2 linked regions of the Homo sapiens genome follow. The protein of the gene in region 2 interacts with the protein of the main gene of each other region in a pairwise test. Each region holds a gene or a part of one and is shown on either strand. Other genes may lie near its edges.

What was found.
Region 1: the proteins of EMX2 (region 2) and OTUD6A interact in binary tests that used the Homo sapiens proteins (3 or more experiments, as listed by UniProt).

The regions. Positions count from the first base shown.
Region 1 is NC_000023.11:70,057,350-70,065,792, forward strand, and holds OTUD6A (OTU domain-containing protein 6A), read left to right. Parts: upstream 1-5,107; 5' UTR 5,108-5,175; coding exon 5,176-6,042; 3' UTR 6,043-6,830; downstream 6,831-8,443.
Region 2 is NC_000010.11:117,536,286-117,545,745, forward strand, and holds the start of EMX2 (homeobox protein EMX2), read left to right. Parts: upstream 1-6,460; 5' UTR 6,461-6,982; coding exon 6,983-7,388; intron 7,389-8,020; exon of another isoform or gene 8,021-8,091; intron 8,092-8,280; exon of another isoform or gene 8,281-8,783; intron 8,784-9,346; coding exon 9,347-9,460. UniProt on the Homo sapiens protein: Transcription factor, which in cooperation with EMX1, acts to generate the boundary between the roof and archipallium in the developing brain. May function in combination with OTX1/2 to specify cell fates in the developing central nervous system.

The sequences.
Region 1 (8,443 bases), on a different chromosome or scaffold from region 2:
AAAGAGTCCCTATAAAAGCCTGTTTTCTCCAGCCAAGGGATTAGGAATGAATTAGCCTAGCAAGACAGAAAAGTTTTAGACAATAATCACTCTATGCCAGCCATAACCAGAGAAAAAAACAACTGTGGCCCCACCCCCACCAGCAAAGACTGAGTGGGGAGACTAGACTTCCAATAATGATCAAAGGATGGATATACCAAGAAGATACAAAGATCCTAAAATGTGTAGGATTTGCAACAGAGGTGCAAAATATGAAAAGCTAAGCCTGATAGAGCTGAAAGGAGAAATAGAAAAGGCTACAATTACAGTCAGAGACTTCAAAACTCCTCTCTCAACAATAAACATAAGAATTAGACAGAAAATCAGCAAGATATAAAAGAATTGAACAACATCATGAACCACTGGGATCTAAACAACATTTTTAGAGCACTCCACCCAACAGGAGCAAAACATGAATTCTTTAAAGTGCCCATGGAACATATATTAAGATAGGCCATACTCTGGGCCATAAACTAAACAAACCCTAACAAATTTAAATGAATTGAAATCATATACAAATGTGTTCTCTAACCACAAAGGAATCTGTGTTAGGCTATTCTTGCATAGCTATATATAAAGAAATACCGGCTGGGCCAGGAGCGGTAGCTCATGCCTGTAATCCCAGCACCTTGGGAGGCGGAGGCGGGTGGATTACTTGAGGTCAGGAGCTCAAGACCAGCCTGGCCAACATGGCGAAAACCTATCTCTACTAAAAATACAAAAATTAGCTGCTAGAGGCTGAGGCAGGAGAATCACTTGAAGCCAGGACGCAGAGGTTGCAGTGAGCCGAGATCACGCCATTGCACTCTAGCCTGGGTGACAGAGCGAGACTGTCTCAAAAAGAAAAAAAAAGGAAAAATACCTGAGATTGGGTAAGTTATAAACAAAAGAGAAAAGAGGTTTAATTGGCTCATGGTTCTGATGGCTGTACAGGAAGCATAGCAGCTTCTGCTTTTTAGGGAGATCTCAGGACACTTCCAATCATGGAGGAAGGAGCAAGAAAGAGATGAGGGGAGGTGCCACACACTTTTGAACAACTAGATTTCACAGGAACTCACTCACAATCTCAAGGACAGTACCAAGAGGATGGTGCTAAACCACTCATGAGAAATCTGCCCCCCATGATCCAATCACCTCCCACAGGCCCCGCCTCCAACAGAGGGTATTACAATTCAACATGAGGTTTGGGCAGGGACACAGACCCAAACCATATCAGAATCAAAGTAGAAATCATTAATAGATAACAGGAAAACCTACAAACACTTGGAAGCTAATAACTCACTTGTAAATAATCCATGGGCCAAAAAGTCTCAAGGAAAACCAAAAAGTACATTGAACTGAAGGATAATGAAAACTAAACATATCAAAACATGGGAGAACCAGTTAAAGTAGTACTGAGAAGGAAGTTTATATCACTAAGCGTATACTTTGGAAAAAGAGAAAAAGTCTGAAAGCAATTATTCAAGCTCCCACCTCAAGAACCTAGCAAAAGAAGAGCAAACTAAACCCAAAGCAAGCAGAAGGAAGAATATAATAAATAGCATAAACTAATGAAATCTAAAACAGAAAATCAATGGGGAAAATCAATAAGACAACATGCTAGTTCTTTGAAAAGATCAATAAAATTGACAAATCTTTAGCAAGACTGACAAAGAACAAAAGAGGAAACACAAATTACCAATAAAGCAGGGAATACCACTATAAATCCTCCCAACATCAAACAATAAAAATGGAATACTACAAATAATTCTGCACACATAAATTTGACTACTCAGAATAAATGGACCAATTCCTCAAAAAACACAAGCTACCAAAATTCACTCAATATGAAATATATAATTTGATTAGTCCTATTAAGGAAAACTTTTTTTTAATTTTAAAACTCCCAAGAAAGTGATCTCTTGGCCCTGATGGTTTCACTGGAGAATCCTATCAAATGTTTAAAGAAGAATTATTACTGATTTTACACAATCTCTTTCCAAAAAAATAGAAGAGGAAGGAACACTTCCCTCCTCTTCTTGTGAAGTTAGTATTTACCCTGACACTAAAACTAAACAAAACAGTACCAAAAAAGAAAACTGCAGACCAATACCTCTCATGAACATAGATTTTTTTTAATCCTTTTTTAAATTACCAAAAGAATTCCTCAACATATAAAAATAATGATAAACTATGACCAAATCAGGTTGATTTCTGAAATGCAAGACTAGCTTAATACTTAAAAATCAATCACTATAGTCTATCATATTAATAGGTTATAGAAGAAAAATCATATTGGCATATCAATACAGAAAAAACATTGACAACATTTAATACCCATTCATGTCAAAAACTCTCAGAAAAATAGGAATAGATGGGAAAGGCCTCAACTAGATAAATAACATTTACAAAATCCTACAGCTAACATCATACTTATCAGTGAAAGATGAAATTCTTTTCCTCCTAAAATCAAGATCAAAACAAGGATGTCTGCCCTTGCCACTCTTATCCAACATAGTGCTGGAAGTTCTAATCAGCACTATAAGGCAAGAAAAGGAAATAAAAGACATACTTACTGGAAAGGATGAAATAAAACTGTCCCTATTCACAGATGACATGATTGCCTACATAGAAAATTCCAAGGAATCAAGGGGGGAAAAAACCTCCTAGAAATAATTAGCTAGTTAAGCAAGGTCACAGAACACAAGATAAACAAAAAAAGTCAATTGTATTTTTATATACTAGCAATGACCATGTGAACATTGTAAATGTTCACATTATAAAAATACAATACCATTTACAATCACTCAAAAAAAGAGAAATGCTTAAGTGTAAATCTAACAAAATATGCACAGGATTTATATGCTGAAAATCATGCAGTGTCACTGAAAGAAATCAATGAAGATCTACGTAAATGGAGATACATACCCAGGTGTTCAAGGACTGGAAGACTCAACATAGTAAAGATGTCAATTCTCCCCAAATTGATATTCAGCTTGAACACGATTCCTACAAAAATCCTGGCCAGGCGCGGTGGCTCACGCCTGTAATCTCAGCATTTTGGGAGGCTGAGGTGAGAGGCTCGCTTGAGCCCAGGAGTTCGAAACCAGCCTGAGCAACATAGTGAGGCCCCGTTTCTACAAAAAGTAAAAAAAAAAAAAAAAAAAAAAAAGTTAGCTGGATATGGTGGTGTGTGTAGTCATCCCGGCACTTTGAGAGGCCAAGGCAGGGGGATCGCTTGAACTCAGGAGTTCAAGACCAGCCTGGCCAACATGGTGAAACCCTGTCTCTACTAAAAATACAAAAAGTATCCGGGTGTGGTGGTGTGCGCCTGTAGTCCCAGCTACTCAGGAGGCTGAGACATGAGACTTGCTTGAACCCAGAAGCTGGAGGCTGCAGTGAGCCGAGATCATGCCACTGCACTCCAGCCTGGGTGACAGAGCAAGACTCCGTCTCAAAAAAAAAAAGAAAAAAAAAGGAAGGAAGGAAACCAAGGAAGGAAGAAGAAAGAGAGTAAGAGAGAGAGAGAGAGGAAGAAAGAGAGTGAGAGAGAGAGAAAGAAAATAGGCAAATGAAGGGCTGAGCATGGTGTCTCACATCTGTAATCCCAGCACTTTGGAAGGCAGAGGTGGAGGACCACTTGAGCCCAGACTGGAGTGCAGTGCCGCTATCTTGGCTCACTACAACTTCTGCTTCCCAGGCTCAAGCTATCCTCCCACCTCAGCCCCCAGGAGTAGTTGGGACTACAGGCACACACCACCACACCTGGCTAATTTTTGTATTTCTAGTAGAGTTAGGGCTTCACCATGTTGCCCAGGCTGGTCTGGAACTCCTGACCTCAAGACATCCTCCCACCTTGGCCTCCCAAAGTGCTGGGATTACAGGCGTGAGCCACCGCATCTGGCAAAAAAAAAAAAAAAAAAAAAATTCCCCAAAATTAGCCAAGTATGGTGGTGCCTGTAGTCCCAGCTACTCAGGATGTTGAGGCAGGAGGATCACCTGAGCCTGAGCCCAGGAGTTTGAGGCTGCAATGAGCCATGATCACGCCACTGCATTCCACCCTCGGTGACAGAGCTAGACTCCACCCCCCCCAAAAAAAAGAGAGAGAAAATAGGCAAATGACATAAACATTTTACTGAAAAGGATATGGCATAGATGACAAATGAGCACATGAAAAAAGGAACATCATTAGCCATCAGGGAACTTCACACTTATCAAAATGGCTAAAATAAAAACTTGTGACTGGGCACAGTGGCTCATGCCAGCACTTTGGGAGGCCGAGGCGAGTAAATCACCTGAGGTCAGGAGTTCCAAGACCAGCCTGGCCAACACGGCGAAACCTCGTCTCTACTAAAAATACAAAAATTAGCCGGGCGTGGTGGCAGGCGCCTGTAGTCCCGGCTACCCGGGAGGCTGAGGCAGGAGAATCGCTTGGACCTGGGAGGCAGAGGTTGCAGTGAGCTGAGATTGCACCATTGCACTCCAGCCTGGGCGACAGAGCGAGACTCCGTTCCCCGCGCCCCCCCCTCAAAAAAAGAGTAAACTGAAAGGACTGTGTTTGCAGGAATGTAAGGAAATGTCCTTGTTCTGATGCACAAGTTAATGGTTCCCTGGTGAAGGGACCTGAAAGACTGGAGAAAAACGCACTGCTTCCTCAACAGTAGGGGCAATGCCAAGTCCAGGGTTAGAGCACATTCAGCGGTGTAGTATCTGTCATGTGGCTGTCAGGCATGGCTACTGCCTGCATTGTGTGCAGACTTGGAAATGAAGTCGGCTCTCAATCAGCGAAAGACTCTACAGGCCCAACTGCCACACACATTGCAGGAAGGCCATATTTGAATCCCGCCAAAAACCTTTGCTGTGGGGTCCAATGGGCTCATACTTCCGGTCTCCCAACAGCCAATCCTAGCACTGGGCATTTGCGGGTGGCCCAGCAAGTGGCCTAGCACTTGCGGGGGCGTGGCCATGGAGACACAGTGACCAAAGGCAGAGAAGAATGCGAATGGGGGAGGGGAAGCGGAGGCTGAGGTGAGCCTAGAGCGGCGGTTAGAGCCGGTGAGGTGAAAGAGAGCGACCGTTAGGACAGGCTGAGGACTTCTGGTCTGTTCGGTACTTGAACTGCCAGCAAATTTCAACTCCCGCTTGCCATTCAACATCATGGATGATCCGAAGAGTGAACAGCAGCGCATACTGCGCCGCCACCAACGCGAGAGGCAGGAGCTGCAGGCCCAGATCCGGAGCTTAAAAAACTCGGTCCCCAAGACCGACAAGACGAAAAGAAAGCAGTTGCTCCAAGACGTGGCCCGCATGGAGGCCGAGATGGCTCAGAAGCACCGGCAGGAGCTGGAGAAGTTCCAAGACGACAGTAGCATTGAATCTGTCGTCGAAGACCTGGCCAAGATGAATCTGGAAAACCGGCCTCCCCGCTCCTCCAAAGCCCACAGAAAGAGAGAAAGAATGGAGTCCGAGGAGAGGGAGCGCCAGGAGAGCATCTTCCAGGCTGAGATGTCGGAGCACCTGGCCGGCTTCAAGCGCGAGGAGGAGGAGAAGCTCGCCGCCATCCTGGGAGCCAGGGGTCTGGAGATGAAAGCGATCCCGGCCGACGGCCACTGCATGTACCGCGCCATCCAAGACCAGCTGGTGTTCAGCGTGTCTGTGGAGATGCTGCGCTGCCGCACCGCCAGCTACATGAAGAAGCACGTCGACGAGTTCCTGCCCTTCTTCAGCAACCCCGAGACCAGCGACTCCTTCGGCTACGACGACTTCATGATCTACTGCGACAACATCGTGCGCACCACGGCATGGGGAGGCCAGCTGGAGCTGAGGGCCCTGTCGCACGTCCTGAAGACCCCCATCGAGGTGATCCAGGCCGACTCGCCCACCTTGATCATCGGGGAGGAGTACGTCAAGAAGCCGATCATCCTGGTCTACCTGCGCTATGCCTACAGCCTCGGCGAGCACTACAACTCCGTGACACCGCTCGAGGCCGGCGCCGCCGGGGGCGTGCTCCCGCGTCTCCTGTAGGCCCCAAGGCGCTGAGCAGCCCCGGGAAACTGTCGCCGTCGCCGCATCTCCTCAGTAGGCTCAGTTTATTTTCCCCTTTTGCTTTTCTCTGTTTTTCTTTTCCTTCCTTTTAATCAAAACTACCCGCCCCCGCCCCGCCCCCGCTTTCCTAACCTTGCTGCTTTCACAGGGTGGGAAACGAAATTCGAGGGAAATTCCCCGGAAATATGAGGGAAATCTCTGCATTGCACCACCAGAGGGGCATAAATTTGAAAGTTCTAACCTCTTCTTGCCCTTAAGGGTCTTTTACCTCCCTCACCAACTAAGATTTGGTCATGTTGCGTATAACTTCACCACAAAAATGGAAATATTGGCCGGGCGCGGTGGCTCACGCCTGTAATCCCAGCACTTTGGGAGGCCGAGGCGGGCGGATCACGAGGTCAGGAGTTCGAGACCAGCCTGGCCAACATGGTGAAACCCCACCTCTACAAAAAATACAAAAATTAGCCGGGCGTGGTGGCAGGCACCTGTAGTCCCAGATACTCGGGAGGCTAAGGCAGGAGAATCGCTTGACGGGAAGCGGAGGTTGCAGTGAGCCGAGATCGTGCCTTTGCACTCCAGCGTGGAAGACAGTGAGACTCCGTCTCAAAAAAATGAAAAATTAGCCAGGCAGGTTGGCGGGGGCCTGTAATCCTAGCTACTTGGGGTGCTGAGGCAGGAGAATCAACTGAACCCGGGAGGCGGAGGCTGCAGTGGGCCGGGATCGTACTACTGCACTCCAGCATGGAAGACAGCGAGACTCCGTCTCCAAAAAAAAAAAAAGAAAAAAAGGAAATGTTAAGTTTCATGTGTTCTGGGAAAAATAAATCTAGTAGACTAGCTCGGGGAGTCTTCAGGTTTTCCTATGAATGTCTTGGATTACTTAGACAAAATTGGAGTTTATGTGATCAAAATGCCTTGTGAAGGCCTTTTGCTGAGTTTTGGGGGGAAAGATTGCCATGGTTTGCTATTTACTTAAGCTAGACTACTCAGGAGATGTCTCAAGTTATGAACAAGAGATCCGCTAGTACTTTGTTTTGTTTTCTTTTCATCAAAACTTGTGTGGTTCCTAATTAATTTTAGTTTCTCCCATGTTTGCTAATTCTAAATAACAGCATTTGTTAAAACATGTAAGGTAAATCTGTTAAATAGATAAAGTAAATTTAGATAAACTGATAGGCTAGATAAGGTTTACTCTAAGATGTGAAAGATCTGAACTTAATTTCCTTTACTAAAGGTAGGAAGAGATAGGACTTTATTCAAATAGTTGATACGTTTCATTATCTTTACAACTGGTATAAAGAAAAAAGAGACACATTGATAGGTAATTTACTTACTCTAAGGGGTGAAGATCTGAATCGAGTAAGTTTCCTTTATTCTTAGAGATATAAAGGTGTATGAATTTATTCAAGTACTTGATTGACCTTGTTATATCATCTGGTATGAAGTGTGAAAGATATGAATGTAACAACTTTCCTTATTTCTTAGAGATACAGAAATATCTAAAAAGATTCTTTAAAATATTAAAGTTTTATTCTATTTTGTTACATCAAAAGTGAACAATATACTTTTGTTATTTGAGACTTGTTAATATCCTTGAATTTTCCAAAAGAATATAAAATGAAATGATTTACAGTCAACAACTTATGAAAATTTTAATCTTTACTTTCTGTAATTCAGTGAGATTAATTTTGGAAATTCTTTCTACATTCCAAATGCTCTAAGATAAAATATATATGTTTTTGAAAGTTTTTAAACATGTAGTTTGTTCAAAAATAAAAACCATTTAAAAAATACCTGCTTCTCTGTTTTTGTGTAGCTAACTTCATATAGAGTTTATATCCCAGGATCTACTTAAGCAAAGGAATCCTGGAGGGTTAGGGAGCATAGGCCTGTTGCGGGTGGCGGGGTGGTGGTTGCTGACTGGGGACAGGGGCAAAGACTGCTGAAGGGCTCTAGAAATGGGAAAGGTGCTCTACTTCAGTGGGCTGCATAGGGTCAGGGAAGGGGGTGACAAGCTAAAAGAAGAGGCCTGGCTAGGGTAGGGGACCTTCATGGACAAAGAGGCCCAGCTGGGTAGCGGGGGCACAGGCTAGGAAAGAAGTCCTGGCTGAGGGAGGATGCCTGCAAAGGGTCCAGGCTGGAGGCTGGGGCATGGACTGGTGAAGGGTTCCTGGTAGGAGAAGGTGGCCCAGCTGGGGCAGGCTGGAGAAGGAGAGGAAGGGGGCCTGGCTTGGGAAGGGAAGCTGTTTGGGAACTGGGCTACAGTCTGGGGAAGGGGTCCTGGCAGGGGTGGAGTTGGGTGGAGAGAAGGGCAGGAAAGGGGGCTGGGTCAAGAAAGAGTCACTGTCTATACAAGGAGGAATAGGCTGACCAGGGGGCA
Region 2 (9,460 bases):
TCCTAGATGGACGCTGACAAACCCAAGTAGCGCCTTACATTGTCGGGCGAGGACCAGACTCCAAGTTAAAAGGCCGGCCGGGCTATCAGTGGCAGAGAGCAGAGCCTCAAACACGAAAAGCCAGAAAGCGCTGCAGAGGCGTGGAAGGTGCGCCCCGCTTCGCTCCCCATGCTGGTCCTCTGGGAACTCAGGAGCCGGTGCACGCTCTGGTGGGCTCATAGAGATGTAGCTTTGGGGGCGATGGGAAGGACTTGCCACGCTCCCACCCACCCTCCATCCCGAGAGAGTGCAAGGGAGACGCAACTGTCTTCATCCCTATCCCGGGCTGGCGCCCGAACTAGAGAGTGTACTTCTTCCCTAGCTCCTGCACCACCGTCTGTGTGTACGTCTGTCTGTCCCTCCCAGTCCTTGCTCGGTCCTAGGCTTTCATTTGAAGGCAGCTGAGGGAGAAAGAAACTGCAAACCCCTTTGGTTCTGTTTCCTTGCTTTCAATAATGAATCGAGACAGCGTGTGTGTGGTGAGGGAGTGACGAGTTTCAACGTGATGAAGGAGATAAAACCCGACGGTGGGGTCCTGCCAGTGGCTCCATGCGTCACTGAAACATTGGGTCTCAAAACGGATAGATCTCCGGAGACGCAGAGGTTCGCGCGGATGTCCAGAGGAGGACAGCGCCCCTGCAGCCACCCGCGGAGCCCAGGGCCAGGGTCAAAACCCTGCCGCAAGGGCTCGGAGCTCCAAGCAGTTATGCTGAGGGCGCCGGTCCCAGGCCGCCTTGCTATGACACGGGTTTCCAGTGAAGCCCAAGCGGATTCCACGGCCCCACATCACCGGAGGAGCCAGGCTGCCCCGGGATGGATGGGGTCCGCGCGCTCCGAGAGGAATGGGCTAGTCAATGTGCGCTGCTAGGAGTGTGTGGTAATCAATCGCCACCCCTGCCAAAACCAAGGACCCCCTGTGTCGGGCGTCTTCAGCCAGCCGCGAGGGGGCGCGGATCTGAGAGAGTCGCACCCCGGGACCCCAGCTCTTCCTACTCCACCCCAGGCAGGGCCCGCGCAGGCCGTCCAAGGCCTGTTCTCTGAACCACCTGGGTTGGGCCGCGAAATATGGGACCTCAGGCATGGAATTGTGGCTGCACAGGTGATCACGGCTTCCTAGTCCTTCTTAGAGCAGAACCTGTCCCACTCCAGCCCACCTCTGCGCCCCCTTCGGAAGGAAGCCTACTGGAGCTGGAATTCCAGCGTGGGTGGCGAACTCTCAAGCCAAGAGCTGGAGCTGATGGAGGCAGGAGGGACGCACTTCCAAGCCATCCGGGCTCCTCCGTAGCCAGTGAGCCTCCTTTAACCCCTCCACTGGCCTGGATGACGGCCTAGGCGAGACTTTGGCAGTGTGGCGCGACCCCAGCGCTCCCCCGCCCTCGGGCTCGGGGGCGCGGTGGGTACCGCGCCCGCGCCCGGCCCTCGCCACTAGGCGCCGCTGCGCTCACGCCGATCGGGGCCCCGGGTCGCCGCGCCCGCCTGGCGAGAGGCCTCTGGGGAAGACGCCAGAAAGGGATTTGTCGTAATAATTTTTAAAAAATGTTTTTAGGGCATTAATTATACTTTTCGTTTTCTCACCGCCACCCTGCGCGTTCGGAGAGGCCGGCGTGACTGGGGATCTCAGTGGGTTGGAGGAATTCTTAACGCCCCCGAGGCCTTTCCAACTCGGGACACCATTCTCGCGCCTCGGGCCGGGAAAGGGCTCGCCCTTCACGGGCGTCGGTGCGGTCCGCGGCGAGCCGCGGGAGCACAGGGCGGGCTCAGCATTCTGGTTCAACGTGAGGACCAGAACCTCGGCGATCAGGGACCAGGACGTGGCAGAGTGCAGCGGGTAGCTTCGACGGCACAAGGCCATGGCCTAGCAATAACTAAAATGTGATGAACGCTAACAGTGTGCTAAATATGAGCTCACTCACTCTCTCAACAACCGTTAACACATCGCTATTTCCTTTTCACAGATGAGTCAACCGTGGCTTAAGAAGGTGAAAGTCACACAGGTGGTGACCCCAGACAGCTCCCACACACCTATTCTCAGTTGCAGGAGGCCATGCACCCACCCCAGGTACCTCACAGGCCTAGCACGGAGCGCAGCTATAGTGAAGCACTGCCCTTTGCTCCTTTGAAGCCCGGGGGCACCTTGCAGGAAACTCCTAGCAGATGCTTATCAGAGATCCCCAGGAGTCTCCGCCCTTTGACACCAACCAAGGAGCCAGGACTCCAGGCCTTGCTCACCCCAAAATCTCCCTAGAAAAGCTCTCAGCTTTTGGGGGAGCACGGAGGAGTGTGGCAGGAGTGTCAGCATTAGCTGATGTTTGTACAGCTATATTGTTCACAGACTCTGAAACCCAGTAACAAGCCTTGGAGGTGGGTATGTAATAGCAGCATCAAGGACAGGAGCAAACTTTTATTGTAGTTCATTATGTGCCAGACACTGTCTAAGCACTTTACTTTGTTTATCTCATTGAACAAACCCAGAGCAAAGGTACTATATTATTTATTCCCATTTCAGAGAAGAGAAAACCGAGGCACAGAGAAGTTAGGTAACTTGCCCAAGGTCACACAGTTAAGCTGTAAATGCAAGTCTCTCATCTTGGGGGATGGGGGCAGGTGTATTAAAGTATAATTACATATAGTAAAACTCACCCTTTGTAGTATATGGTTCTGTGAGTTTTGAAAAACACATAGAGTCATGTAAATACCACCACAATCAGGAAGTAGGATAGTTCTATCTTTCTCCAAAACAAGCCCACTGCTACTCCCCACTGCCTCCCAGACAGCATTGGCTGTATTTTTACATATGACAAAATGAGGTGGGGAGGTTTCTGTGTTGCCCAAGGTCATTCAGTGACAGATTCGGAATTAGAACGTTTGAATGTGTCTGCTAGTCCAGCTACCTGGAAAGGTAGATTCCTCAGTCTACAGAGCCCAAGAGGCAGCAGTGGCTTGGGGCACACATGGGGCAGAGGGAGGAAGCCCCTTGCTCTAAGCTGGAGCCTCAGAAATCCCCACATCTCCCACTCCACGCAGGGCTACTTAACCAAACACCCACTCCTTGGGCAGCTAAGGAACAAAGGTGGCTGTATTCTGCAAGGCCTAAATCCACAAGTAAAGTTGAGTGGCAGGGCAGCTGCGCCATCTAGGAGCTTAGGGTCCAGTCCAGACCACAGTGCCCAGTGCCCTGGCACGACTCCACTGGCCAGTCTGGTTAATGAGTTACTATCCTAGTTAATTTCCCTGCACATCGGGGCCAGACCCCGCGAACCTTCCCGGGCCCTTCTGGCCCCGGGAATTAGCATAGATTACCCATGCATGAATTAGCATAGATTACCCAGCTTCTGGGGTTCTGAACTGCCCGACTCACTGGAAACCTGCTTCTCCTTCAAGGGGCTGGAGTGCAGCTCGGGTCTAGCAGCACTTGGAGCAGAGGAACTAGCATATCCTGGTTCCTTCAGGAAGGGGGACACCAGATCTCAGATCCTGCTGCCCCTTTACCCCTGCCTACGTGTTGGCTAGCTAGAGCCCCTGGGGCAAACCTGGCCACAGAAGGGCAGTTTATAAAAGGCAGGTAGCCTGCAGAGGATGCCGACTGACTGAAGTGGGACTGTGGAGCACTCTACCCCTCTACTGCAGCCAGATGTCCCTGCCTGGGGCAGAAGGCTGAGGGGTCCCATCTCCAGCCCAACACTGTCCTGGTTAAGGGAATAATGATTGCACCTTAGCGCCCAGGGCTGCAAGTTTTAAAAGAGGGAAGGCACCCATCACCCTTATACATCACAAACCATCTGGGTCTCACCCAATCTCCCAGACAGACTGGATACCTGTTGCCCTAAAGGTCAATGACTTTTATGCCCCCATCCAAGATCACTAAGGGTGGAGTTTCAGTGGCTCCAGTTTGCAACCTCTGAGTCTCAGGCTGAGTTTGGAGGGTCTGGCCTGAGGGCACTGCCAGAATCTGGCCCTCCAGTCCTCCTTCTGAAGTTTGCATGAAAGGTGCACTCTCCTGCTTGCCAGGATTCAGGATGCACAGTCTGCCTAAGCTGAGTGTTTGTTTCCAGCCTCAAAAACCTGAGGGCGGACCTCTAGCTCCACCCTAAGCTTACTGGCTGGGCACAGCCAAAAGACCTCCCCCCTCTGCCATGTCTTCAGGCTCCCTGCTGGCCTAGCTGGGGTTAGAGGAGAGGCCTGTAACCTCACAGCCTAATTGAGAGAGGGATTTCCAAACTGTAGACAATATTTTGGGGGACAGTGGTCCAGGCCCAAGGGAGGTGCATCTTTAAGTGCACCCCTACCCCAAGGGCTGGATCCAAAGCCCAGAATCTTTGGGCCTGGAAAAAGGGGAGGAGGAGAAAGCAAAGCCACCTGGAACTGACAGAGGGACAATACTGGGCTAGGACCCCAGCCCAGAACTTCGAAGCCTAAGGGAAAGGCAGGTGTCTCCCACTGTGAGGGCAAAGCTGAGGCGCACACCTGTCTCATCTGTGAAGATGTGTATGTGTGTTCCCTGGGAAGGTGTGGGGTGGGGGCAACAAAGATGATCTCTGCCAGTTCCTCACGAATCTGTCTGGTGCCCTGACAACCCCGGAAAACACTGCTCCCAACTCCTCTCTTGCCTGGTTTCCCAAAAGAGGTTTTTGGACACTTGCCCCAACACAACATTATATCTGGAATAAAGGAGTAATTGACACAAACATAAATATACACCAGATGAAACCAAGGGAGGAAGCAGGTAGCTCGTCCTGAGACCTGTCCCCTCAACTATGCATCTGGTGGCAGTGCAGCCTGGCTCACGGTGGACTTCACTCTTCTCCTCCCATTGCCATCGGCTTCCCAGGTTTCACGGCAACCTAGTCACCAAACACAGGCAATTCTGCGTTCTTAGGAGAAATGACAGGGGCCTGGGAGTAATAGTTTTAAACGACGCTAGAATTTTTTTTTATCATTAATTGTAAACGTGCAAAATACCTGCTGGTACTTCACTTTAGAAGAATGTAATTGGCAAAAGGAAAAAAAGGAAAAAAGAGGCGGCTGATGAATAGATAATAGATCTTTAACCACCAATAAACAGAGAGCAGCGCCAGCAGCCTGGGGATGTGATCATAATTATGCCGCCGCGCGAGCCAATGGGGACGAGGGAACTCGGTCCTAAAATCATCCCAAAACCGAAGGCGAGCTCGAAAATGCGGACACGGCCCGGGACCGGAGATGCGATCCGTAGTCGTTAGTTGCACTGGGTTTGCACAGCAACCACCACCCCCCCACCAACCCCGGGACAACAGATGGCATAATAATAATAATAGAAATAATAATAATAAAATAATATCATCTATAATAATAATAACATTGACCACACTGACAAAAATAATTACGACGGAACCTTAATAGTACAGTAGCACCATATCGGGCTCTCCCCTGACCTTGGACTGCCGGTCCCAGATATTCCAGAAGGAATTGTTTTGGGGAAGGAGGTGAGCACCCTCCCAGACAGAAAACGCTAGAGACCGTGGGGCGAGAGAGGGAGAGAGTTGGAAGCCCACTGCTCCGGCGGGGTCGGCAGCTCCCGGTCTCAACTCGCAAACGAACGAGCCGGGTCAAGAATCGCGAACGCACCGACCCTGGGACCTCGAGGCTAAGCGTGGTTGATGGGGTGGGAGGACCCCGTACCCCTCACTCCAGGATCCCTCCTGGCCTAGGAAACCGCTGGGAGTTTTGCTAAGTGTGGGGATTGGTATAACCGAACGGCGCCTTTAGCCCGGGAACCAGCCCCTGCCCGCTTACCCTCGCGGTGCTCTTGGGGCGATCCCAGTTCTCCCGACGCGGGGCCGCGTAAGGCAGCAGCGGCGGAGCGCTAGGCTAGAGGAATCTGTCTGTCCTTCTGTCCTACCAGCTTGGGCGAGGCAGGCTCGGGATTCAGGGGGCCGCAGCGGAGGCGGCGCCGGCCAGGGACTCTGCAGGGACCGGGGTGCCCCGGAGGGAGTGGTGCTGGTGGAGGAGGAGGCGGTGGCTGAGGGGGAGTAGGTGGGGAAAGAGGAGGAGGAAGAAGAGGAGGAGGAGGAAGAAGAGGAGGAGGAGGAGAAGAAGAAACTGGAGGAAGAGGAGGAGGCGAAGGAGGAGGAGAAGCCGCAGCGGGCGCCGCAGGAGCGAGTGAGCTGGGAGCGAGGGGCGAAGGCGCGGAGAAGCCCGGCCGCCCGGTGGGCGGCAGAAGGCTCAGCCGAGGCGGCGGCGCCGACTCCGTTCCACTCTCGGCCCGGATCCAGGCCTCCGGGTTCCCAGGCGCTCACCTCCCTCTGACGCACTTTAAAGAGTCTCCCCCCTTCCACCTCAGGGCGAGTAATAGCGACCAATCATCAAGCCATTTACCAGGCTTCGGAGGAAGCTGTTTATGTGATCCCCGCACTAATTAGGCTCATGAACTAACAAATCGTTTGCACAACTTGTGAAGAAGCGAACACTTCCATGGATTGTCCTTGGACTTAGGGCGCCCTGCCCGCCTTTTGCAGAGGAGAAAAAACTTTTTTTTTTTTTTGCCTCCCCCGAGAACTTTCCCCCCTTCTCCTCCCTGCCTCTAACTCCGATCCCCCCACGCCATCTCGCCAAAAAAAAAAAAAAAAAAAAAAAAGAAAAAAAAAGAAAAAAAAAGAAAAAAAATTACCCCAATCCACGCCTGCAAATTCTTCTGGAAGGATTTTCCCCCCTCTCTTCAGGTTGGGCGCGTTTGGTGCAAGATTCTCGGGATCCTCGGCTTTGCCTCTCCCTCTCCCTCCCCCCTCCTTTCCTTTTTCCTTTCCTTTCCTTTCTTTCTTCCTTTCCTTCCCCCCACCCCCACCCCCACCCCAAACAAACGAGTCCCCAATTCTCGTCCGTCCTCGCCGCGGGCAGCGGGCGGCGGAGGCAGCGTGCGGCGGTCGCCAGGAGCTGGGAGCCCAGGGCGCCCGCTCCTCGGCGCAGCATGTTCCAGCCGGCGCCCAAGCGCTGCTTCACCATCGAGTCGCTGGTGGCCAAGGACAGTCCCCTGCCCGCCTCGCGCTCCGAGGACCCCATCCGTCCCGCGGCACTCAGCTACGCTAACTCCAGCCCCATAAATCCGTTCCTCAACGGCTTCCACTCGGCCGCCGCCGCCGCCGCCGGTAGGGGCGTCTACTCCAACCCGGACTTGGTGTTCGCCGAGGCGGTCTCGCACCCGCCCAACCCCGCCGTGCCAGTGCACCCGGTGCCGCCGCCGCACGCCCTGGCCGCCCACCCCCTACCCTCCTCGCACTCGCCACACCCCCTATTCGCCTCGCAGCAGCGGGATCCGTCCACCTTCTACCCCTGGCTCATCCACCGCTACCGATATCTGGGTCATCGCTTCCAAGGTACGTGCCACGTCGCGGAACTGCAGCGCGCCGCTCCCGCCGCATCCTTCACTGCCCCCGGCCTGCTCCGGGTGGGCGCTTGGCAAGGCCTGGGCGGAGGTTCCTCCGGCTCGCGGGCCAGCGCGCCCTGTTGGGAAACTAGGCGGCGCGGGGCCGGGCGTGGTGTCGATCCCCAGTCTCCGAAGCTACGACTGGTTTGGAGTGATGGCCTGCGGGCCGCTTGACCCTTTGGGAAGGGGTGCGAACGGAGAAGTTGTCCCCCAGTGCGCTCGAATCAGAGCAGGCTGGGCTGTGCGTGCCCGGCGCCGCGGAGCCCAGAGCCCGCGGGATCCCCAGGCTCCTGGTACCCTCGGCAATGCCCCCAACCGTCCTGGCTCCGAGGGGCGCGGACAGGACTCGGCCGCCAGGCTTGCTTTCGACTGCGTTCGACCCTGTTCACCACCCACTTTGCGCCCCTTCAGTCCAGACCCGCGGCTTCTTAGTCTTCCACCCTCTTCTGGAGGCGAGAGGATCCTCGCGCCCCGGGAGAAAAGTATGGGATTTGTTTTTTCTTTCCTGCTTTTCGGAGGCCTGGGGAGGGGCGGGAACCCGTGCGGGAGGAAAGCTCCAGGGCTTGGCGCTCTCGCCGCGACCTGCTTAATTGGGGCGCCGAGCAGCCACAGCGGGAAGGCAGGTTCGGTCTGGTTTTTGTTTTTCTTTCTTTCTTTAAAAAAAAAAAAAAAGAACCTGGTCAGGAAACTGTCTTAGAGGGAAATATCTGTTCGTGTGTTTTCATTTCTTGCGATATTTTTTATTTGTTTGTTTTTCTCTGGGTACGGGGTGGGAGGAGGAGAGTTAAAACTTCAGAAAAAGGAGTAATTAGTTTACGGATTGGAGTCAGTAAAAGACCTACCTCCGGCGGCAGCCGATCAATACTCCGCGGCTTGTCCATTCATTAACCCATTGCGTTCCTGCCGGAGCCTAGAATCGGGTAGATGTCACCCCCCTCCCCATATTTTAAAAAATCAAACCAAAGGAAAAAAAACCCAAAAAGCCTTTTACCCTTAATCCCGAACTGGATTTGCCTGCATCCTGCCTGGACTGTCGGCTTGTTTTTCTTTGTTTGGGTTTTCGGTGAATCGATTTCCTATGCTAATGAGTGAACCCAAAACTCTGAGGCTTTGCTTGAAAAGTTTAGGGCTGCCCTTCCTCATTCGCTATCAGTCATGCTTATGGTCCCCTCACCAGACCCGGAGCCGCTGGGATCTTCCTGCGTTACAGACTGTCCTGGCGGTGTCTGCAAGTCGGTAACCCCCCGGGTTTCGATCCCTTCGCTCGCGTTTCTCTTCTAGTTCTCGGGAGCCGGGAGCCCCGGAGCCCAGTTCGCGAGAGGCAGCAGCGGCTGTAGCCAAGCACACCCGCCGGCCAGATTTCTGTCCCGATCGGGCTTCAACGACTCGCCCCGCCTCTATACTTTTCCGGAGGGGCAATAAAACAAATAATTTAAAAATAAATCTCCATGAAAACTCTGGAGAGCAGCCCGCCGCCTTTCCACCGTGGGTCAAAGTTCCCCGAGAGGTTAGAAAGAAGAGAAAGTAGTTTCTTCGGGTTGTGGGCGCCAATCCCCTGGCCAGGCTCTGCGGCTCCCTCCCCTGCCTCCAGCGCCCGGCGAGGAGGTGGCGAGGCCCGCGGCGCCAGGGCGGCTGCGGAGCCGGCCGAGGTCAGGAGCCTGGGGACTGGCTCCTCTGCGACAGCGGCTGGTTGGGTGCCGCACCGGTGGAGACCCGGCGTTCCGGGCCGGGCAGCTGAGCAGGCGTTCCCTTCGTGAGCCCTTGGGAGGACCACCGGCCCCCGCAGGTCGAGCGGCGCGGCTATGCGAAGGCCCTGAGCACGGTGCCGGGCCAGCCCGGCTCGGGAGAAGTGCGCGGCTCCGGTCAGAGCAGCCCCCCCTAATGGGATTTCTGCTGTGCTCCCCGCAGGGAACGACACTAGCCCCGAGAGTTTCCTTTTGCACAACGCGCTGGCCCGAAAGCCCAAGCGGATCCGAACCGCCTTCTCCCCGTCCCAGCTTCTAAGGCTGGAACACGCCTTTG